Linked DNA regions of Homo sapiens: all the other regions are linked to region 2. Evidence: fine-mapped expression QTL. A gene starts in region 2. Each other region holds a variant in brackets. All regions are shown on one strand. Distances are between the middles of the regions.

What was found.
Region 1: its variant is fine-mapped to the expression of ERGIC2 in macrophages (Nedelec 2016, PIP 0.95).
Region 3: its variant is fine-mapped to the expression of ERGIC2 in whole blood (INTERVAL, PIP above 0.99).

What each region holds. Positions count from the first base shown.
Region 1 is chr12:29,275,868-29,284,054 of GRCh38, forward strand. The region is part of intron 2 of FAR2 (fatty acyl-CoA reductase 2); the gene reads left to right. FAR2-AS1 (FAR2 antisense RNA 1) reads right to left here. Exons shown (of 7, transcript NR_103860.1): 6 at 6,297-6,493; 7 at 4,548-5,675. Among named protein-coding and RNA genes, the nearest start is that of FAR2-AS1, 38 kb to the right of the region's middle. The variant A/AT (reference allele first, on the strand shown) is at 4,061.
Region 2 is chr12:29,377,696-29,385,882 of GRCh38, forward strand. ERGIC2 (ERGIC and golgi 2) reads right to left here and starts at 3,477. Exons shown (of 14, transcript NM_016570.3): 1 at 3,420-3,477. RefSeq lists an enhancer at 3,040-3,209.
Region 3 is chr12:29,297,150-29,305,336 of GRCh38, forward strand. It overlaps FAR2 (fatty acyl-CoA reductase 2), which reads left to right. Exons shown (of 12, transcript NM_001271783.2): 4 at 1-51. All of the region lies in intron 3 of FAR2-AS1 (FAR2 antisense RNA 1), which reads right to left. Among named protein-coding and RNA genes, the nearest start is that of FAR2-AS1, 17 kb to the right of the region's middle. The variant A/AGTT (reference allele first, on the strand shown) is at 3,480.

The DNA of each region.
Region 1 (8,187 bases), 100 kb before region 2:
GTGAAACTGCCTTGCAAATCTCAGCACCTGTTTTCACTATTGGGCTATTTACTGTCAGCTGTTGACTTTTATGAACAGTGGTTCTCAAAGTGTGGTCCCAATATCAGCAGCATTCAAGATCACCTGAGAACTATCTGTTGTGATCAGATGGTACTTAACAGCCTGGGCTTCAGAGGCAGACAGACCTGGGTGTGAATCTCCATACGACCAATTGTGAGTTGTGTGATAGTGGACTAGATATATACTTTGCTGAGCCTTGGTTTCTTTATCTGTAAAATGCTGTAATAATACCTTGCTTACCCAGGGAGTCTCTGCGTCTTTCTCTCTTGCCCTCAAGCCTTTCTGGATTTAAGGTATGGCTTTTACCACTATTTCCTAGGGCCTCACTTTTTACTAAGTTAGGCTGTATACTAAGTTATGCCAAAAAAAGAAGTGTTTTTTTTCCCATAAATTTTTCCCTCAAAGAGTTGTGGGAGGAAGGGAATCTGATGTGTATAATATAGTTGAAAAACACATCTACGGTAGATCACAAACCATGTCTACATGGCCATTTTGTGGGTAACAAGAACAGATTCTATCACCTGATTATTAATGCACAAGCCATTAGCTATGCAAATATCTACTTTCTTGTCACTATATGGAATCTGATACCTGTAAAGAGATTTTCCATGGAAAAAAATATGTGCTTGATTTTATTGCTGCGTATCCCAAAACTGAAAAGTTTTTGCTACAAAATTGTGTATGCTTCAGAATATAAGAATGCTATCGCTGATTGGCTGTGGATAAAGCTCTGTGCAAATAAGGAATTATGCAAGAAGTAGTTACTGGCCATCTATGAGATTCAAGATATTATTGCTTGTATTCCCTTTGAAATTGAAAATTCAAAATAAAGACAAGACAGATAAAATTGTATTTTTTTATATTTTTTAAGTTATGGGGATGAGCTATGTTTGAAAGGTGAAAGAAACCTCTAGATTTTATATATATATATATGTAAAATCTCTAGATTATATATATATATGTGTGTGTATGTGCCACTGCACTCCAGCCTGGGCAACAGAGTGAAACTCTGTCTCAAAAAAAAAAATAGATAAAATACGTTTTTTATAAAATATTTATTTATTTTGAGACGGAGTCTCACTCTGTCACCCAGCTGCTAGAGTGCAGTGGCTCTATCTCAGCTCACTGCAACCTCTGCCACCTGGGTTCAAGCGATTCTCCTGCCTCAGCCTCCCGAGTAGCTGGGATTACAGGCATCTGCCACCGCGCCTGGCTAATTTTTGTAGTTTTAGTAGAGACGGGGTTTCACCATCGTGGCCAGGCTGGTCTTGAACTCCTGACCTCGTGATCCACCCACCTCAGCCTCCCAAAGTGCTGGGATTACAGGCATGAGCCATCACGCCTGGCCATAAAATAGTTTTAATGCATAGCTGACCTTGAGGCAAAATAAGGAAATCCGTAAGTGTCCAGAAATAACAAGAAAGTACACACCTACACACAAAAAGAGTGAGAAAAGTTGAACAAGCACACAAATATGACAAGTATTTATTGAGAGCCAAATGTATGTCAGGCACTTATTGCTTTGTGCCTGGGGAACAGGGGCAATAAAGTAGAAAATAAAACAGGCATGGAATTGGCCTCACAGATCTTAAAGTCCAGTGAGGCAAACGAGTTTCATAAGAAACACATGTATATTTAAGTATTTTCAAAAGTACTGTGAAGACAAAGAACACGGCAATTTGAGAGAGAAAATAACAAGTGACGCCTGCTTTAAAATTATCTGCCGGAAAAGGACTCCAGAGATAGTGCCACTGGAGCTCAGGAAGAGTTAATATGTTCAAGAAAATGCAGGAGGGCATTTCTTTCAGGTAGATGCCTAGGCTCTGCCTACTTTGCATGCTTCTATCTGACTATGTAAGGCAAAAATTTATAGAAGTATAATCATGCCTTTGCTGCAAAATGAGAAATAGACATTTAAGAAGAAATTTCCATCTCATCGAATGAGCATTTTGGTGCTATAGTAATTGTTTCAATTTAAAACATTCATTTGTACATATTTTCTTTCTTTTTTTTTTTTTTTTTTTTGAGATAGGGTCTCACTCTGTTGCCCAGGTTGGAGTACAGTTCACAATCAGCTCACTGTAACCTTAAACTCCTGGGTTCAAAGGATTCTCTTGCCTCAACCTCCTGAGTTGCTGGGAATACAGGCACACACTGCCAAAGCTGGCTAATTTTCAAATTTTTGTACAGATGGGATCTCACTATGTTGCTTAGGCTGGTCTTGAACTTGTGGCCTCAAACAGTCCTCCTGCCTCAGTCTCCCAAAGTGCTAGGATTACAAGTGTGAGCCACCACACCTGGTTTATATATATTTTCAATAGTTTTAATAAAATATGTTTATATTTAATAAGATATATTTATACAAATTTTCAGTAGTTTTATAACAACAAAGTCCCTTAGAGGCAGAGGATAGACTTTTTTTAAATTTCTGAGACATGGTCTCACTCTTATCACTAAGGCTGGAGGGCACTGCATGATCATTGTTCACTGCAGCCTCAACCTCCCGGGCTCACGTGATCCACCCACCTCAGCCTCCCAAGTAGCTGGGACCACAAATATGTGACACCATGCCCAGCTATTGTTTTTAATTTTTTTTTTTTTAAGACATGGTGGTCTCACTACATTGTACAGGCTGATCTCAAACTCCTGGTTTCAAGCAATCTTCTGGTCTCAGCCTCCCAAAGTGCTGGGACTACAGGCATGAGCCACCACACCTGGCTAGAGAACAGACTTTTAACAACAAAAAAGTACTTTTTATTCTAAGGTTGAATTTAGGAGGCTGTATAAAGTAAAGGTGGGTAGATGAGACTGATTGCTTACAGAAAGCTAGCTTTGTGTGCTGGACTTGATACTATTACAGGTTTCTTGAAAGATCTGGGAAAAATGTTTAAAATTGCAACTGGAAGACATTTGCTAGACTAGAAATGGAGACTCCTAAGCACTCAGGAATTCAGCAAATGGCTGCTGGTTGGGTTTTTATTTTTATTTTTTGGATTTAAGATACTATCGAACTCTAGTTTAGTTCTTTCTGAATTGAAGACAACTAATTGATGGGTATGTTTCATATTAGTAAAAGCAAAAAGCTTATTAATTTATATTTTACATTAACAAAACCCATAGAGGGAAATTCTACTTTGCCTTTGTAACCCATATGTCAGCTTGGGCATCCCTGCCCTGTAATAAAAATGTAATTAATGACATTCTCCAAGAATCGTTGAGAATTCTCAGATGGCTCATTTTTCATGGTCATTTCTGCTGTTGCCTGGGATGAATTAGGTATGTTTATGAATCATCTTTCATTTCTCATGGGCTCCATACCAAGTTGATCCAGACCAGGCCAAGGCCCTTTCTTCAGTTGTCATAAATTTAGAATCAAACAACAAAAAGAGAGAACACTTGCCTCGGACTGCCTACCACTCACAGGACTTGCCTTTACCTCCCACACATGAATGCCCAATCTTTCAATAGGTCATCCTCTACCCTGTTAATTGAGGTTTTCTGTGTTTATTTTTCTCATCATTTTAAGTCTTCCATTTATTGTAATCTAGGAGAAAATGAGGTCACTGAGTTTGTTAATTCATTATGCTGAGTTTAGTACACAAATTCTAAGCAATATTTCACAGACATGGCTTTTTCTTGGTGCAATAAATATGGGCTTTTGTAAACTGTTTTTTGCTTTTTGGTCCCACAGCTATGTTTTGGATGGTTAAAGATGCTAAAAGTCTAAACCCTCAATTGCAGGTTACTTGTAGGTTTAGTTGTTATACCTGTACTGGGAGGTAGCATAAGGCAGTAAAAAGAACACTGATGCTCTAGATACTCTCTCCTCAATCAGAGAGATAGAGCTTGGTAGAGAGACCATGGCCTAGTTACCTAACCCATATGAGTCTTGTTTTTATTATTCATAAACTGTATCTGATAATAATAGCTATTTCATATGGATTTGCAAAGATCAAATGTGATCCTAAGTATAAAATAATGTTTTATATTGTGCAATATA[A/AT]TTTTTTTTTTTTTTGAGATGAAGTCTAGCTCTGTCACCCAGGCTGGAGTGGAGTGGCACAATCTCTGCTCACTGCAACCTCCACCACCCGGGTTCAAGTGATTCTCCTGCCTCAGCCTCCCAAGTAGCTGGGATTACAGGCACCCGCCACCATGCCTAGCTAATTTTTGTATTTCTGATAGAGATGGGGTTTCACCATGTTGGCCAGGCTTGTCTCAAACTCCTGACCTCAGGCGATCTGCCTGCCTCGGCCTCCCAAAGTATTGGGATTACAGGCATGAGCCACTACTCCCGGCTAAATGTTAGTTTTTTATCAGTAACCTCTCATTTCTTTTACCCAGGTATGTTATTTTGTTCGTTATCCCTAGGCAAGACCCTCTAGATTGCCTGTAACAGTTTCACACTCTTATCAAGGATGTATATATTCCTGCATTCTCTTTTCTATAGTTAGTCATCATTTCATTAGAAAGATATTTAAGAATTCACATTTATATTACAACATTTAATTTGAAAAAAACTTTTTGCGGGAAAGGAAAGTATAATCAGAAATTCATCTATCATCTTAAAGTCCTAGGTTTCACCAGTCTGTGCCATATGTGTTCACATTAACTCTCCATTCTGCATGAGTTGTACTAATGTGGGTGCTGAAGGAGATAAACCCCCCAAATCAGTAGCTTAATACAAATGAAATTTGATTCTCAAACACAGTAGGTGTAATTGGTAGAAGGCATTGCACTCCACAGTCATTCAAGGATCCATGCTAAGGGAAGGTTGCCATCTTCTACACATGGCTTCTAAACCATCCAAGGTCTCTCTGGATGACAATAAAAAACTGTCAGTGGGGTAAAAGAGGCACTGGACATCATGTGGAAGGTTTTTGTGGCCCAGGCCCAGAAGTGCCTATCACATCTGTCCATATTCCATTCTCAGAACTGTCACTGGGCATCTAACCACAAGGATGGCTGGAAAATGCATAGCTGTGTGTCCAGGAGAAAAGGAAAATAGGATTGTTGAACAACTAATGAGGTTCTGCCATGGCCTTCTTTTTAGGTCGCCAAATATCTGCTTTCCTCTCTTTCCCACACATAGAAGACACTCATTCCTACCCCAGGGTCTCATACCATTATTGCATCCAGTCCAAAGTCCAAGGGGGAATAGACTATCCTCTCTATCAGATCCAGATATTTCAGCTTCTGGTTTGGTATTCTTGGATAAAAAGGTGAATTTTCTGCCTCCCAATGTTGAGGTAGAAAATGTCTCTGTTCTATCTCTTGTCATTGTAGAACAGCGAAGTTGAAGAAAAAATAAAATCAAACAAACAAAGACACCTTCTATTCAAAAAAGAGAAGACAGGCAGGCAAGCAGCAGTCCCTAGAATATAACCATAAGGAAATCCTGATTAGCGAGTATTGAGAAGCTTCCTACACTGGGAGTGGGGAAATTCCTTAAATAGCCTCTAAATCTAATCTCTGGGAGGAACCTTCTTTTCCATTATTATTTGTGGTGGCTCCATCCTCTGGAAAGTTCTTCCTTATTTCTTATTCCCTGGCTGTCACCTCTGAAGTGGCTGTTAAGAAGTGTGCTCTTCTTGCGATCTTTGGCTTCATAACTCATTCTGCAAGAGTAAAGACGGAAACTAATGGGTGTTTTAGGTTTAAGGTCTGTCATTTGCGGACTCTGGGGCTGTGGGAGAAAAAATAAATCGTTTGGTTCATGCACACAATGTGACAGCTTGGCATAAGTAAAAGACATGAACAAAAGGATTAATGAAGAAGTGAAAGAAAGAAGGTGTATACATTAGGCACAACATCACCTAAAAAAAAAAAAAAACTGGAATGCATTAAACTTGTTCATTCAATAAGTGTTGGCTGAGTGCCTACTAAGTGTCAAGCACTGAACCAGATGTGGAGGATTCAGTGGCAACACACGGAAAAGTTAAAGGAAAAAAAAATTGGGTAATAAATTTGTTATTGGTTTTAGCAAATCCAAAAAATTCAAGAAAATAGTGCAGTGTTTGCCAAATCTAAAACTCTTTCACCCTCACTGAGTCTTAAATTAGGAATGCACAAAAGCAGAATTACTAGAAAATCAAAGTTTTATGGGTGTATTCCCTTAAGTAATAGCCCTATATTGGAAAGTTGGTGGAGGTGACTGCACATTTTAAATAACCAACCTGCACCTTTACCCCCTCCCCCATATCCTAACCAAATAAAGTATAAAATGAGGTAGAACTCACCATGTTACATCAGCTTGCCAGGAATGAAGTCAATGCTGATTGGAAAAGTGTCAAGCAATAAAGAAGAGTTTGGATTTATCTTTAACACTGTCTTCATGTCACTCGAGACTTTAATTTCAGCCAACTCTACTTCTAAAACCAACCTCTTATGCAATGATCCTGTCTGGGTCAGAGTTTCTTCTGGTAGGCATCAGATTCTGCAAATATTTATTATCTCATGTTAATCAAGTCCCCCTCTAGATTCTGCCATTTAACTTTAACGAGTTTGACACAAACAGAGTGATTTAATGCAGTTGTAACTTATTCCTAAGTAGGGCCTGGTATAGCTTTTAAGCAATACATCTCTCCAGTCACACATAATAATGAATGAATTCTAACTCACTGCAAGTACTACAGTGTTCCTGAAGGTAATAAACCATGTCAGCTATGTGAGGCTTGGAAATTTTTTTTTAAAACATAGTAACCAAAAATGTTACCAGTTGGCCTTTGATTACAACTACATCCCCCAGGAAATGTGATCAAAAGGACATCTGTTCTATGTATCAAAATTCAGACATCTGCTTCCTTCTTTTCCTTTTATGGTATGCATAGATATCACATCTGACTTCCAGTTTCCCTGCTGTCAAAGAGAAACTATTAAATGGGAGATGCTCTAGACAAAGGGATTTTAAAAAATCCATTGGCCACAGAGAACTAGAAGTGAAGAATCGAAAAAGAAGATTAATTTTCTTTCTTATTACTAAGTTTCTTAAGTATTTTCAGAGCACTTAAAGGGACATACCAGTGGGGGGAAAGTATATGAATTAATGGCAGGATTCTTGAGGACTTTCTCACAAAGATAATTAAGGTGTCACTCCAAGACAACAGCCAGAGACACCACAAATAATGTATAGATATTTTTATTGTAGTATTACTTATAGTAAACTTGGATCCAATTTAAATGTTCCACAATAGAGGAATGACTAAATAAACAATATATACAAGTGTTAGACAAGTATCCAGGCATTAAGAATCATGTTTTATAAAATAGTAAATGACACAAAAAGCCTTGTAATATATTGGTGCAAAAACAGATGCAAAACTATATTCAGTATAATCTCAACTATTAGCCCTAAATGTTGTTGTGATCTTGGATTACAATTTTTTTGCATTTTCAAATTTTCAAATTAGAATTATGATTATGCTACTTCTATGGTGAGGAAAAATTACCCTTTATAATAGTGAAAAAATAAGAACAGTAATCTTCTATCTTCCACATTTTCCAAATACGATGAACACATTACACTTTTACAGTGGAAGAAAAGAAACACCTATCTTGTAAAGTAGTAAATAAATCAGAATAAGGCAGAAATCAATCATGAATTTACAAAATTATGTCATCAAGTATAAGTTCAGTTCATTTTTAGTTTTGAAACTGTTTATCAAAATTAAATAGTTTGACTTATTTTTATTAGAAATATGATTCTAAGTATTCAACATTGCTTTTTAAAAAATTATCATCTAGTTTTTCATAAAATCTGAGGAGCTGCTAGGTAAATTTCGCACACCAAATTTCGTGTGTTGAAATGTGAACATGCTCACCACAGACCAAGGGTTTCCGAGCTGCTGTTTCATCTCTTACTTATGGAAAATATGCTCATGTAATTATGAACCAATCAGCTTTTCATTGTGTCAAAAGCAAATGTAGATAGTGCAATTGATATTTTAGCTTTATTATTGTCTTAAATATGTCTTGGCTTAAAAAGACATGGATGGCTTTTCCCCACTATACCAGATAATGAGTTGCAAATAAATCATTCAGTAGTAAAGTTCAAAGAAATGTTGAAAGCATTTCGAGTTTCCTAGTGTCTTACCGATATGTTTCTTTTTACAACAACCATGTCCCACGTCT
Region 2 (8,187 bases):
TTTCAGGTTGGAACACAGACATTATCAACACTCACTGTAAGTAAAGTCACACAGCCTATATTTCATCATTGTATCCATCTGAATATAATGAGACTATTAAATGCTTTACCAAAATTAAAATACAGAATTCATGAACTTTTTATAGTCTGCTCAGTTAAGTTTAATTCTCCAAAGAAAAATGAAGACAAAAGTTATTTCCTGCTACCCAAGTTTTGAGTTAACTTCTATTTTTAATACATATTTGGCAATATGAGAAAAATTTAATTGGTTAATACATATGGCCAAGTTGCAGTCTGAACTGTGTCAACTCACAATTTGATACGTTGAACAAGATATGTTGAAGTCTCAACCTCTGGTATCTATGAATGGGCCTTATTTGGAAATATTTGAGTCTTTCAGATATAACTAATTAAGATGAGATCATACTGGATCAGGGTGCTCCAAAATCTGAGACTGGTGTCCTTTTAAGAAGGCCATGTGAAGACACAGAGAAACACAAGGGAAAATGCCATGTGAAAACAAAGGCAGAGACTACAGTGATGTGTCTACAAACCCAGGCATAGCAAGGATTGCCCAGAAGCCAGGAAGAGTCAAAGAAGGATTCTTTCCTAGAGTCTTCAAGTCTTGCTGACACCTTGATTTCAGACTTCTAGCCTCCAGAACTGTGAGAGAATAAATTTCTTTTGTTTTAAGCCTCCCAGCTTATAGTAAGTTGTTACAGCAGCCCCAGGCAACTAATACAGGCAATATAATTCAGGCCATCGCTGAATATCAGAAATAAAAGGTAAAACTACAACCTATCTGTAATTTTAAATTACTTGATTATATTGCATTAGAATACTTTACAATAAAAAACATTTTATAAGATAGCTTAGCTTTACTTTGCAAATACTAGATAGCAACCCCCCAACCCCCTCAATTGTACTTATTTTTACCTTAAAATTTGGACCTTTTACAACAGAGTTAAATATTATGTTTGTTTACCCCAACATAATTCAAATAAACCTAATGACATTCTAAGTGACAGAAAGGTTTACTTGGAAGCCAAGGAAGACAATATAAATGTGAGTTTATAATCAGAAAACCCTGATTACCTAGGCACTTACTAGTTGTGTGACAAGTGTGGAAAGATACTCAACTTCTTAGAATCCTCTCTCCATAATTTTATTTTAAAAGATGGGCAGCAGGACATAATGGCTACCTCACAGTGTTAAGATAAAAATGAGGCATGTAATATCTATTTCTAATTCTCTGAAAAAAAGCAAAGATTTGTAGGATATTTGAGATTTAGTTGTTAAAGTCTTTGAGGAAAGTGGGAGAGTATGTGAGGTTAGTTGACAATCTCCTGAAGTTAGGATGGCATAAACTGATAAGACTAAAAGTTAAGAGAGACTATAGAGTGATAACAGAATAACCTTAAAAGTGCCTAGTAGCAATGTGAAGCAAGGACAAGTATAATCCTCCTCAAAGAACAACTAGACTATAGTAGCTCTCAATAAAAGTATAGAAAATTAAAGTTAAAAAGTATTAAGGAAAAGGTCAGGGACACATGAAATATATTTACAATAGAATGAATGTTCTCAAAAGCAAAGAGTATGGGGGTTAATAAGGCACTCAGAGGGTAGATCTGAGCCACACTACAACGTGACTATATAGAGCAATAGAAAGGAAGAACTTATGCTTTAGTCATTAAAAGAGGATAATAATTTAAGAAAACAAGCAACTGGATAATGGGAGTTTAAGGACACATTAACCACACCAATCAGAGTGTTTAATCAATCTGGAGTTCAGAAAGATATTATTTTAAACAATATCTTCTTCAGTCTACATTTTGACTAAGTAACAAGGCAACATTTGTAACTACAGATGTTAGAAAATGAAAATAAAAAATAACAAGAGCTAACATGCATTGAGTGTTTACTGTGTGCCAGGTATTGTTCTAAATGCTTTGTATGTTTCAACACATTCAATCCTCACAACCTTCCTATGAGTTAAGTATCATTATTTCATTTGGCCGATGAAGGAACTAAGGCACAGAGAGGTTAAATAATTTGACCACTATGACATTAAGAGGCAGAATTACAATAAATATTGGGAAACTATTAAATAGGATTTTTAGCAGGCACTGACTGCCTAAAAGTAACTTCTGGTAAAGAAAAAAAAAATAGCCATTTCTTTCACTTAAATCATCAATCCCCAAAGAAAGAAAATGTGTGGGTGGTTGTTGTTGTTTCCCTAACTCTCGTTGTTCCAGACTAGGCCTGATTTCCTTTGAGAGATCTTTCAAACTTGATATATTTTTATGATTTGTACCAGGAAGCCATTATAACACGCAACTGTATACTAAAGTTCACCATCATTTAAAAAAAAAAAAAAAATCCTCCTCTCTCTATCCATCCCTGCACCGCCAACCCCCACCCTCCCAAAAAATCAGAATTTTTTTCCTCATGTTTTCCACTAGAACTGGCATAATTACAACAACTTAAAGATATCAACAAACAAATTAGGTAAATAACCATGTCTTTTTTCAGTGAACAAGCCAGGCTCATTCTTTATAATTGCTGTATACTGGAGTCCAATGTATCAGGCTAGGCAATTAACTGAAATACTGAATTACAACTTCAAATGAATAAATCCTGTTTTTAACTGTAACTTTCATTGCTTCTGAAAACCAGTCTGGCAACATTTTAACAGCTATTATGCCACTTTGTCTTTAAGTCTCGGGGGCACTAAAATATAAAAGTTATTTAAACGTGTTTTCTCAAACAATGACCTGTCAACTCTATATACTACAGATAAACAAGGCTATTCTCCACCACGAGTTGACACGTTGCCTTCGGAAGGTTTCCTGCGCCGAGGAAAAGTAGTGACAGTCGAACCTGTCTCTCAGCATCTCGCCCTCCCCCGCCCCCTTCTCATTTTCCGAAGCACTGTGCGAAACTCCTTCCGGGCAAGGCCAAGACTCTTAAAGAGACAGAGGGCAACGTGCTGCCACGAATGTGGCATTTGTCTGAATGGGGGTAGGGAGTCTGACATCCGGGAGGACTGGGACTCGACCGATTGGGATCCTACTCGCCTGCGGACTGGAGAAACCACCTGGGAACCGGGCACTGTGACAAGCAAAGGGTCAGAATCAGGTGCGATCGAGGAAGCACCTGAACTCCTTCGAGTTGCAGGATAGCACACAAGCACCCGGACCTGGCAAAGGGAAGCTCCCAGTAGCATCGTTGCCTAGGGTCCTGCCAGTAACGCCCCCGTGGGAGGTGGAGCGGCTTCTCCGTCCGACCGGCTCTCTAGAGATCAATGAAGACAGGAAGCCAAGCCCATGACAGGCTCCCAGTTCCCTCAATTGCATTTACGCCCTAAACAGCCCTGGAACAACCGAGGGAACAGCACCCAGCGGTGTTTCAGTATTTTACCTTGTGTTATGGTCCCAGCCTACCGCCATGTTTCACAGAAGCCCGGGTCGCCGGGGCTCCCGCGTACCCGGAAATATCGCGAGAACAAAAGCGACTATCACAGCTGAAAACGTCAGAAAAGAGACAATGTACAGATCTCGCGATATTCCCTTTGCTTACGACGTGCTTAGGGAATGAAGAGGCGTGGTTAAGATAAAAGAGGCGTGCCTACAGGGAAATGAGGTTGCAACTTGTTTTAGGTGTAATCGCGCCGCCAGTCCGGTTCTGTTTCTATGGGAAGGGAGGGGTTACTTTCCGACTAACACTGAGACTGCAGAACGAATCTCAGCTCCTCACACCGTATTTCATTACTAATAAGAGCCTTGGGCGCAGAAATTATCCCTAACAACCCTAATGCATATCACCTGTGCAATTGTTTTGTTTCCCTCTTTCAGTTTTTGTGTCGTTTTCCCCTGACAAGAACATTTGAGCTTCCTTTTCCGCCATAGGTAACGCTTTTTATTATTTGATCAGCGTTTTTATTGTCTTCCAGGTTTTAATATCATAAGAAAGCACATATGTCTTCCTCATCTCCCTTCGCCAACACCAACTATGCCTTCAAATATTTGTTAAGAAAGAAAATTAATACCTCATCTTTTTCTACCACTTCATAGAACAGGAGTTAATAGACGGAACTTCGGAAAGAAAAGTTAAATGTGAACTCCTGGAGAGTAAACCCATTCCAGGTTCCTTTTCACCCATCTGTTACCAGATTTTATAATCAAACATTGAGATTTAAATTTTCTGATTCATTGACCTAGAAGTCTAACAACGGCATAATTATGACAACTGCTTATAATTACTGTTTAAAGGCTTTAACTGCTTTTTTAAAAAATCTGCGTATCCTCACAACACTCTTAGAAGATAATACCAGTATTTACCTGTTTTATAAATACGGAATTTGAGTCAAGGGGTAGTGAAGTGATTTACCCAAATTCAGACCGCTGGGAGAGTCAGGGAAATCTTGATCACAATACTAAACTGTGCCTCAAAGGAAAAAAATCACATTGTTTTATGTAGTGAATTAACCTTTACTGAAATACTAAATTTCACTAAATTGAATATCCCCCAAAATAAGGACTGATGAAAAGTTTCCAATGAATCAATTTTATTTTCAGACTTTCAGAGTTAGTCTAATTAAATCAATTTAAAGTTCTCACTTTCTTGACATGCTTAAGAAGTATAGTGTAGTGGGTGAAATCATAGACACTGGAGACAGGACTTCCTGGGTTAGAATTCCAGATCAGCAACTTACTAGCATGTAACCTTGACCACATTATTTCATCTCTTTGTGTCTCCATTTGCTCATCTGTAAAATGGGCATGATAATATCTCAGAGTTGTTACGAGGATTAAGTAAATTAATATACATCTAAAATGCCTTTTTTTAATCTTTGCCGTAAAGGCATCAGCAACTCTTCCTTCTTTGTGAATATGGGCTCTTGCTTGGATGGAGGCTGGCTGTTGTTCACTTAGTTACATCTGATCCCTCATCTCCTGGATAACCTACTTTCAGGGTAACAACTATCCCATGAGAGTTGGATTTCCCAGTGTAGCAAAACTGACTAATTTGATCCTTCTTATTTAGAAAACAACTCACCATTTTCTAATCTACCCAGTGAAGAGGGAACTTAATTTCCCCTGAAGATTGAAACTCTCGGGCTGCAGCTAAAGCCGCATTCTTTTCATTAAAGGCCAGGGTTTGATCTAACAGTAGCACGACATCTCTGCAAGCGAGGTCAAAGGTTTGCCCTAGACCCTGTAGGACATCTATGTACCTATCAGGATCATCTTTAAAAAGAGATAGATACTTAATCTTGTGTTATCAGTGGCGTTATGTCTGAAAAACAATTTGCTTTAAAAAGTCCATTATGTATTACCCGCATAAGATAGGTTTTAGACTGAGATTAATAATTGTTCCATAACAACCTGTATTTAGTAAAGATGATCAAAAGGTGTTTTTGTGCCATTTTTTTCTTTCTCTAGTTCGATTGAATAATTCATGGGCTTTTTTCTAATTCTCCTTAGTCCTTCTAGAACACAGGTCAACAGATGTTTATGACTTCAGTCCCCATGATCTGAGTCAAGGTCCCAGTGGGGATCCATACTGGGGATGGCTTGCTGACCAGTCGGGAATTTGTCCCTTTCTTCGGCTGTCATTCTGTCATTTACTTGACTAAGATACCAGGTATCTCCAAACTCTTGGGCTGCAGCTAAAGCCGCATTCTTTTCATTAAACGCCAGGGTTTGATCTAACAGTAGCATGACATCTCTCCAAGTGAGGTCAAAGGTTTGCCTAGACCCTGTAGGACATCTGTGTACCTATCAGGATCATCTGAAAACTTCCCCAGGTCTGCCTTGATCTGCTTTAAATCAGAGAGGGAGAAGGGGACATGTACCCGGGTTGGGCCAAATACCCCTCCCGCTATAGCTTGAAGGGGACATAACCAATAGCCCGGGGTTTTTTGTGGTCCTTTGGAGATTTCCTTGCTTGTTTCCTTCTGGCCAGGGGAGATTAGAGGAGGATTATCATTAATAGGAAGGGGAGCTATAGGGAGGCTAGGATATGGGGATAAGCTGAGAGATCCTCCTGTGGGATATAAATTGTAAGCTTTGCATAGTTGTGTATTCTCCCTCAATGAAAATAAAGCTTGGACATGAGGTATTTCACTCCATTTGCCTTCCCTCTTACAGAAAAGATCAAGCTGCAGGATAGTATTGTAATTTGTACTTCCCTCAGGTGGCCATTTTTCCCCATCAGAGAGAGAATATTGGGGCCAAGCCGTAGTGCAGAAAAAAATGAGCCGCCTCTTTTTCAGGGTTTGTGGGTCAAATTGGTCCCAATGGCTTAGGATGCATTTCAAGGGTGAGCCTGTTGATGCCTGAGTGTTTCCCATCTGAAAGACAAAACTGCCGCGTTTTGGTTTATTTTGTTTCTCCCCCTGCCCAAGAACCTACAACGGTCCCTGGACCCTGCTGATCAGAATAGTTGCGCTCACCAACACAGCAGCAGAAACAACCCCTGCCCAAGAACCCGCAACAGTCCCTGGACCCTGCTGATCGGAATAGTTGCGCTCACCAACGCAGCAGCAGAAACACTAGTTTTCCTCCCAGACCACATGGAGGACCAAGGAAAGTCAGATTTAGCGGTCCTTACCGACGCATTCTCGAAAACCTGCACCCTTGCCTGTCCTCCTAGGCCACAAGGGGGACCAACTGAGAAAAATCGATTTAGTGGCCCTTACCGACGCATTCTCGAAAAGCTGTTAGAGTCCTAAGCATTCTCCTGTTAGTACTGGGACTTTACCCCTGTCCTATAAAGATGTTATGCCCCAAAAATGAAGTGGAGGGCCATACCCTGAGGGAGGGAAGGGATCTCCAGGTTTGGAAGAGTGACACCTTTTGTCCTCACTTATATGAATAGGAAGGATATAATTTCTGAGGCTCCCCATATCCTAGCTTCAGGAATAGCTTTTGTTAGGCCTGTTAGTCTGAGGAGGGATCCTAAAATTCCAGGTAGTCCCCACTACGATGGGGCTTTGGGCAAAAATTATGTCTTTCTGATTGGTGAGCCCGGGTGCCTAAAGAAGGTAACAGAGTCCTGGAGTTTATACTAGAAATCATTCTTATAGGAGAAACTAGAAAAGCACCAGAGACGGTAGCAATTTTTAGAAGCGGGACTAACCTCAGAGAAGAGAGGCAAGAGGAAGTTTGTCTGACAGGCATTAGGACCCAGGGGGCAAGGGTCAGGATAGATAGGATAGATGGGCGAGTCTCGCTTGGGCGACATGCTTTTGAGAGTTCTGCTCATGGCCGCAGGGTCAACCAACTTGTTGTCGGGACCCCAGAGCTGCATGGCTTTCCTCTCTGTCGACCCTCGGCTCAGCCCAGAAGTACTGGAAAAGCAGAAGCTGGTTCTAGGGAAAACAATGGTCCCAACTCCGAAGAGTCGGGGGTTGTTATAGAGCCCTTTCCCAGAAAACCTGACACCCGTGTCTTTAGTCCGGTGGCCACGCTAGTCGCTTTTAACTGGCCAACAGGTGCCCGGTATTTAGCCCCCAAATTCTAAGGAAAGATAGGACAGAATAGCAAGCTAAAGGGGTCCGATGGTACTCACTGCTTGGCAATAGGTGATTGTCTCACCGCTCAGCAATAGGCGATGGTCTTACTGCTTGGTGATTGGCGAAGGTCCCATCTGGGTCGCCAAAATGTGTCTGGAATTGGTGGGTTCTTGGTCTCACTGACGTCAAGAATGAAGCCGCGGACCCTCGCCGTGACTGTTACAGTTCTTAAAGGCGGCATGTCCGGAGTTTGTTCCTTCTGATGTTCAGATGTGTTCGGAGTTTCTTCCTTCTGGTGGGTTCATGGTCTCGCTGGCTCGGGAGTGAAGCTGCAGACCTTTGCGGTGAGTGTTACAGCTCTTAAAGGCAGTGTGGACCCAAAGAGTGAGCAGTAGCAAGATTTATTGCAAAGAGCGAAAGAACAAAGCTTCCACAGTGTGGAAGGGGACCCGAGCAGGTTGCCACTGCTGGCTCAGGCAGCCTGCTTTTATTCTCTTATAAGTCCCCACCTACATCCTGCTGATTAGTAGAGCCAAGTGGTCTGTTTTGACAGGGCACTGATTGGTGCACCTACAATCCCTGAGCTAGACACAAAGGTTCTCCACATCCCCACCAGATTAGCTAGATACAGAGTGTCCACACAAAGGTTCTCCAAGGCCCCACCAGAGT
Region 3 (8,187 bases), 81 kb before region 2:
AGTTATCTATCCGTGCCCTGTGGAGCCAAAAAAAATCATTGATTCCCTTGAGTAAGTTGGTCTAATAAAAGGATCAAGGGGCGGGTAGAATAAGTTCCTTTGTTCTCTTTGATTCTTTGTAGCTATTAATGAGATGATGAAGTCAAACACTTTTGAAGCAAAATGTTTTGAAACGGTGCTAGCCTTAGCTACCTTGTCCCTGCTAGTTCTGGTGGGGAATATACTGCTAAAAGAGAAGGGGGATAGAAAATTCTTAAACATTTTGTGGAATTGCGTAGGATTGCATGAGGTACTTGGGAATACTATACATAGAAGTTGTTTCTCACTTCTTAATGAACTTAGCATTGTCACTGGATAAAGCAAGTATAATGTATAGTATAAAAGTTCAGAAGAAAAATGTCTGATTCAGACTGACGTGAGTTTGGCATAGCTCCACCAGTAACTACCTGTGTGACTGAGCAAATTCCTTGCCCTCTCTGAGCCCCAAGTCCTTCATTTGTAAAATGGGCCCATTTTATAGTTGTGAGGTTGAAAAAAGTTATATAAAACACTTATTGCAGTGCTAGGGAGTGTTTAACAGCACTTAATCAAATAATTCATAAAAAAGAACTAGAGGCTGGGGGTGGTGGCTCACGCCTGTAATCCCAGCACTTTGGGAGGCTGAGGCGGGTGGATCACCTGAGTCCAAGAGTTCAAGACCAGCCTAAAATACAAAAATTAGCTGGATGTGGTGGCAGGCGCCTGTAATCCCAGGTACTTGGGAGGCTGAGGCAGGAGAATCACTTGAACCTGGGGAGAATCGCTTGAACCTGGGAGGCAGAGGTTGCAATGAGCCGAGATTGTGCCGTTGCACTCCAGCCTGGGCAACAAGAGTGAAACTCCGTCTCAAAAAAAAAAAAAAAAAAAAGAACTAATGAAGAATAAGAATTGCTCCAAGATCTGGCAGAAGGTGACAGTCTCTTGACTTATTTGGCTGAGACACACTTTCTTTACTGTCCTAGGATGCAAGAGAAATAATGTCTAGGATTTTTCTCTTCTTGCCAATGAGCAGAAACCACTTTCATCTTAAAACACAGCTCAGGTCTTAGAATAAGTTTGTTTTCTGCTTCTTTATTCTTCTGCTCCATTTTACTAAGTTTACCTTGTTTTTTTTTTTTGTAAAAAACTATATAAAAAGTATTATAGCAGAAAAATGGACTATTTCACAATGAATTTGTCACATTATAATTTTATATAATACTGTATTTATATTTAATATATACTCTTTAAAAAGTTTTAGCTAAATCAAGAGTTCATTACCTTCAGGGCAAACATTTTTATCTCCTCCAGCTCTGAGAATAGATATTTTTGTCTGTCATGTAAAAATATCCAGGACAAAGAAGAATGAAAGTCATCTAAAGGATCTGGAGGTTAAAGTTGCTAATAAATGGAGGTTTGCTAAATTGGTACAGAGAAAAATTTTAGAGTGCAGAGTTCATCAGGATAGTGGGAGAAAAAGCAGGTGTATTCTGAGGCCCAAAGTCTAGACAATAAAGTATGTTTAAAGCCTCAGAGCATTTTCAGGATGGAATTGGTTTCTGTCAGTTACCCTCTTATGGTGTTGTCTCTTGGTAAATGTGATGTTTTCATATTTGATATGTCCAGGAGAGGGGCAGACCCCTTTTGATTCCAGATTGTTTCCTGGGACTTTCTCCACTGCTGATCTCTCTAACACCTGACAGGTCATAGTGCAATTTGAGGTAGCAAAAGAGCCTGAGAGTTCATCAGAGAAAAGAAGTAAGAGGCCAGGTGTGTTGGCTTATGCCTGTAATCCCAGCACTTTGGGAGGCCGAGGTGGGTGGATCACCCGAGGTCAGGAGTTCGAGACCAGCCTGACCAACATGGTGAAACCCTGTCTCTACTAAATACAAAAAATTAGCTAGGTGTGGTGGCACATGCCTGTAATCTCAGCTACTTGGGAGGCTGAGGCAGTAGAATTGCTTGAATCCAGGAGGTGGAGGTTGCAGTGAGCTGAGATTGCACCATTGCACCCCAGCCTGGTCAACAAGAGCAAAACTTTGTCTCAAAAAAAAAAAAAAAAAAAAAAGAAAGAAAAAGAAAAGAAAAGAAGTAAGAGTTCACCCATAGTGAAGGGCTTCTCTAGGTACTCCATACCACTTCCTCCCAAACTATATCCAGACACTAAATACCCCTAGGTTTCAAAGAAGAATAAACTCACCTCCCAGAGGAAGAGCTGATTTATCTTCAGGCATTCAGCACTTTCCATCCTCCCTCAAGTATATGTCAACCAGACAAGGCAGGTAATTGCTACATGATTTATGAACAAACTGTAACTGACATTTGTACAAAATTTTTAACCTCCATCTGTCATTTACTGCTCTCCAAGGATAACAATTATTTAAGCAACTAATTAGAACTAGGAATGAAATTATTTTATCTCAACAGATAAATTCTGGGTGCAATTAAGGAACTAAGTTTTTTTAAAAAACAGGGAAAAGTCATACTTATTATTTGCTAATTCAGAATTAATTAGGACATCCAGGACCACCTATCCAGCCTCATCTCTCTCAGTCCTCCCCTTACTTTCATGCTGCAGTCACAAAGAAGTAAGGCCTTCCCTCCTCATACTCTGCCTGCCTTTGCACTCGAAACTCTGTTTGTCCCTAGAGCTTAGTTCCCCTTCTGCTTCACCTGGTTAATTCTTACTCAGATATCAAGGCTCCCCAGCGAAGCTCTCTGGCTTAGGCACCCTTCCCAAGTGCTCCCATAGTACCCAGTGTTCAGCTGTATTATTGCTTGTAACACAGGTCATTCTGAATGTCTGGTTGCTTATCTACATTCTACATTAGACAATGAGCTTCTCAACAGAAGAGAATATTTCTTGCTCCTCTTTGCATCTCCAGCTAGGGACTCAATGCTCACTGAATGAATGAAAAGCTTTTGGTGGCATAGACGATTATTGTTCATACTGTTTTGACTGTTTTTGTTTGTTTGTTTTGACTGAAGCAAGAATAGATGACAGAATTCTGTAACAAGCTGATATTTTGGGATGCAGAAGTCTTATGTATAAAATATCTATCCATATCCCCACATCTTACCCTTGTTTCTGGTTGTTCATTTTTTTCTTCTTAAACTTTGAATGAAACCTGTATGTTAACTTTTGAATAGCACTTTAAATAAAACCCAGCAACCCCTCACCAACTATACCATGATCTACGACTATTTCAACGACTCCTATACCAGATGGAATTTTTGGAAGTTTTAGAATAACAACATTAAAAATCATTCTGAATAAATATCAATTCACCTAAATCCAGGTTTAGTTTCTTTGTTTTAGGAAAATACTTTGTTTCTTTGAGTAATTCTCTATTTAGTAATTGGTCTGTGTTAAAATGGAATTATTTTCCAAGGTTTTTAGGTTTCTATTTCCCCTGGGAGTTTTCCTTTCTTTCAGTGCAACAGAGAAATGCCTGGGGGAA[A/AGTT]GTTGTTGTTGTTGTTGTTGTTGTTGTTGTTAACAGTAACTTCAAGGGGTCTAGTGGCTGCCATTGCTCTTAGTAATTCAGCAGTTCTTATTTATTTATTTATAAGGAACCAGGCGTTAGACAACAAGATGATCTTGAAGCTGTACTCTTGGCATTATATTCTCAAGAAAATCACCATGACGACGTAAAATGAAACTTTATTTTTCCAGAAAATCAGTTGAATGGGAATTCCAGTTCTGGGAAATAAAGAAGGATATGCATTTTTGGCCCGGACCTTTCCTGTTTGCTTGGGCAGCAGTGGTACTGCTCAGTGTTGTTAATAATGGGACTGTGAACTTGAACCCCATGCTTACATCCTGGTCCCAACCTTTGCAGGCCTAAAGTCTCTGCTCATTCAGCTCCCCCCATTTTCTATCCATCCTGTATGCTGAGACTGTCAGGCCTGAGCTCCCTTTCTTTAGCCCCTATCTAAAAACTTTTAGCATTACCTTGGCCCTGAAATATTCCAGAAAGATGAAGTTAGTACAAAAACTTTAGCACATTAGCAGAAATATATTTTAAAAATAACTTAAATCAGGAGTTAATGCTTTTAATGAGTATGACAAGCCTGGCCGTTAATCAGTGTTTAGCGACTCATTTTCCTGGCTCTTATATCTGTAGTTGTCTTCTGCCCCTCATCCCAGCCACCGGTTCCCATTCTGACTCAGCTCTACCTTCATATTGCCAGCTTCTGCCTAGTTGGTATATTTACCTTTGGAAATTTATGTGCATAAATGGATCAGGGATTGCCAGTGAAATTCCAGTTTTCCAGAATAACAGCTTATGTAGAATGTTTATTTTTTAAAATGCACATAACTGACCAAGAAAGGCAGGGTTTTATGGTTGGTGCTTTCCTTATTTTTTAGGTCAAGGTAACTCCTCTTAGGGAAAGCAGTGTAGAAGAAAAGGGCTTTTGTGCCTGTATAAAAACCTGAAATAACTGGAAGCAGGTACTAGAAAAATGGAATCACAAATATTTATTGCTCTATTGAGCATATGTAAATAAATCTGAATTAAGAAGGGAAGGGAGGACATGAATCATTATTGAGCAATTACTGTGAGGAAGACACTTCCACAGACATTTAATTCCATAACGTAATATTGTAAGGTTGATATTATTATCACTGCTATACTAATCACGGAGCAAAAAGCTCAAAATGGCTAAGTAACTCCTTGAAAGTCTCTCAGACACAATTTTTATCCATGGCCACTTGATTCTGAAGCCCATGGTCTTTCCAGTCTACTCACGTACTTGGCAGTGGTAGAGATTAAAAGGTGCTTTCTCGCTGCGTGCAGTGGCTCAAGCCTGTAATCCCAGCACTTTGGGAGGCTGGGTTGGGCGGATTACGAGGTCAGATCGAGACCATCCTGGCTAACGCGGTGAAACCCCGTCTCTACTAAAAATACAAAAAATTAGCCGGGCGTGGTGGTGGGCGCCTGTACTCCCAGCTACTCGGGAGGCTGAGGCAGGAGAATGGCGTGAACCCGGGAGGCAGAGCTTGAAGTGAGCCGAGAGATTGTGCCACTGCCCTCCAGCCTGGGCGACAGAGCGAGACTCCATCTCAAAGGAAAAAAAAAAAAAAAAAAAAAAAAAAGGTGCTTTCTTAAGATATAGACTATGTTCCAAAGAGCTCGTATCCAAGACAAATAGAACACGGCAGAATTATACACGTGTGGTGGTGGGGAAACAGGTCATATTAAGTCTGGTGGAGTGGAGGGAGGCATATGAGAAGACTTGGAAGAGTGGATAGAGTGTGGATAGGTGAGATGTGCACACGTGCCTGGCAGGGCAGCTGGAGCTGGGAAACCCAGGCGTGTTTGGGACACAGCCAGTAGTCCATCTTGGCAGCGCATGTGTTACGTGTAGGGAAGAAGTTAGAGATCAAGCTGGAGGGGAGGATGGGCCATACTGTGGAGATTTTGCATACCATGCAGAGGAATTGTATTTAATTCTCTATGCAGTAGAGATCCATTGAAGGAGGGCCATGTGTGCGCATGCATTTTTGTGTGTAATTTGGGGTTGTTTGCTCATTTGTTTTCATCATGGAAAAATACTGATGAAAGTGGGCTTCAGGAATATTAATATAGCCAGGGGCCGGGGGAGGCAGTGGATTAGCATAGGGAGTAGACGGAGGAAGCGAGACCCATTACCAGAGAGGAGTAGTATGGAAGACTAGAATGAGGGTGAGGCAACAGGTATAAAAAACATCTCCATGTTTTGGGAAAGAAAAAAACAATAGGACATGGCTACTGCTTTGCATATGGGGTTGCACCTATCAAATTAACTCCAGATTAGAACATGCATACTTGTCATGTTTTGCATTTCTAGTACCAGGGATTTAATTCTTTTAAAATTCAATTCTGTTGAAATTTTACTCCATGAAGCAATGCGTTTTTGAGAGCTAATCCTGATATATTCAAATCTCAATGACTTAAGTTTATGGAGTGGACTTCTTTTAAATTAGTGATTCCCTGATTTGCCCGACTGTTGGAATTTCCAGGGCATGTTGAAAATACAGATTATCAGACTCTTAACTCTGCAGATGTATTTAGTGATTCTAAAATGGTACCCAGGAATCTGGATTTTTCCCAGGGGCCCTGTGTAATTCATATTTATGAGCAGGCAAGTTTGGGAAAGACTACCTTAAGGAGGTTTTTCACTGAGCAGTCTTCATTTGAAATGAGGATCATTTATCTTCTTTATCTCTATGCTCCCTCTTTCTCCTGCTCTCCTTGCCTCCTGTTGTCTTTCAGTTCTTAGAAGCTTTAATGGAAAGTTCCTAGTAGATCTGTACCTACTAAAAACCATGCTTCTGAGGCTACACAGTCACCAGAAGACACAGCTAAGCTGCCATGTGAAAAAGGAAAGGTGGCGTGTGCACTGAGGGTGCAGGTGTGAGAGGCAGGGGAATGGAGGCCCCCACAGCCAGCAGCAGTGGCCCTTATCACAGTCCTCTGGGAGATATGAAAGGAGGTCAGATGTTAGAAAGTAGTCTTTTTTGCCTTCGTGCTATAGAACACATTGTTAACACTAAAAAAGCTGACCTCTTCTAGGGGAACGGTGAAAGCTGATTCTAGCACTTGTGCTTTTAATTTCAGGATGGCACAGCTTCAAAATGACATCTATGTAGCTAAGTAAAAATGAGAATTCTGTGTACTTTGATATTAGCAGGCTTTAAATTACAAACCAGAATAAGATTAAATTGTTTCTTAACCAAACTGAGTAATTTTCAAATGGCAGGCCATTGGCAGGGTATTCAGCATCTGGCTCATGTTTGAGCCTGGCTAGGTGCTCCGTAAAAGTCTTGAGGGAAATACAGAGGCCAATTCTCCATAAGCATTAGGCTCAGAAATACCCTGCTTCCCACTGGAAAGTTTAAGTTGACCTTGAAGCCACCTTCACCAAAACGAGGTTGGTCAACACTTTTCACCATTGCCACTGGACACTTTACTTCCAATTTTGCTTCCTGCTCTAAAAGATAACCCCTTCCTTCCTTTCCCACATTCTCCCTACAACCTCGTCTTCTTTTGAGTTCATCCACTTTCTCTCATCATTGTCCATCTCTGCTTCCCAAAACCTTACATAGTATAGAAATTGGCCAATCAAGATTATCATGTGGAAGAACATGCATTTACTGAATAAGGCAGCTGGCTCCTGGGGGCAGAAAGGTGATTAGACACAGTGATAAAAATCATAATCCCTGATCTTCTGGACTCACTGTCTGTCCAGTGGGGAGACAGACACATAAGCAAATACAACTTGATAACTACAACAATCAAGAGAATGACATAATCTACCCTGGAGAAAGAGAGAGCAAACATTATCATAAGACAGTGTGTCCACTACTTACTCTCTAACAGATTTCCTGATAAACTACTAGGCTTGCCCACTTGTTGCATAAGAAAATTGAGGGTATCAGGGGAGGGGAAATACATATGCCTCTTGGTAATTCATTCAGTAAATACATAAATAAACCATTAATGATATAATCATGTTGATTCAATAAGTTTGAAACCAAAATTGATAATATTTAGAAGAAATTGTGTATGTGTGTATATGTGAACACACATAGACATATACATACTGCTTTCTGAAATTTTCAATGACTTTATGCTTCTTCTGAAGCAATTCAAGTTTAGAATTTGAGACCCATGGGTTCAAAACATCTTCTTGAGTATACTGGAGGACATTTAGATTAATTTCAGACATGTATTTTGGTTTATATGTGTTTTTTATCTATGCTAACTTATTTACTGTTTTAAAAACAAATTGAGAACAAACAGCAGCAGCAACCCTGAATTGAGTGTTTAAGTCCTAAGAATGGCTTGGCCCAACCAGTGGATGTGCATGTTTATTACACTAATCTCCTCTGAACCTAGGAAGTGGCTGGATGAGCTTCAGATGGTCTGTTTGGCTGTATTATAAGTGATATTTTATTTTTATTTGTTTTATTTGTTTATTTTTATTTTTATTTATTTTATTTTTTTGAGACAGGGTCTCTGTCACCCAAGCTGGAGTATGGTGGCACAATTATGGCTCATTGGAGCCTCCAACTCCCAAGCTCAAGCAATCCTCCTGCCTCAGCCTCCTGAGTAGCTGGAACTGCAGGTGCACACCACCATGCCCCATTAATTTTTTTACATTTTTTTTGTAGAGGCAGGGTGTTAT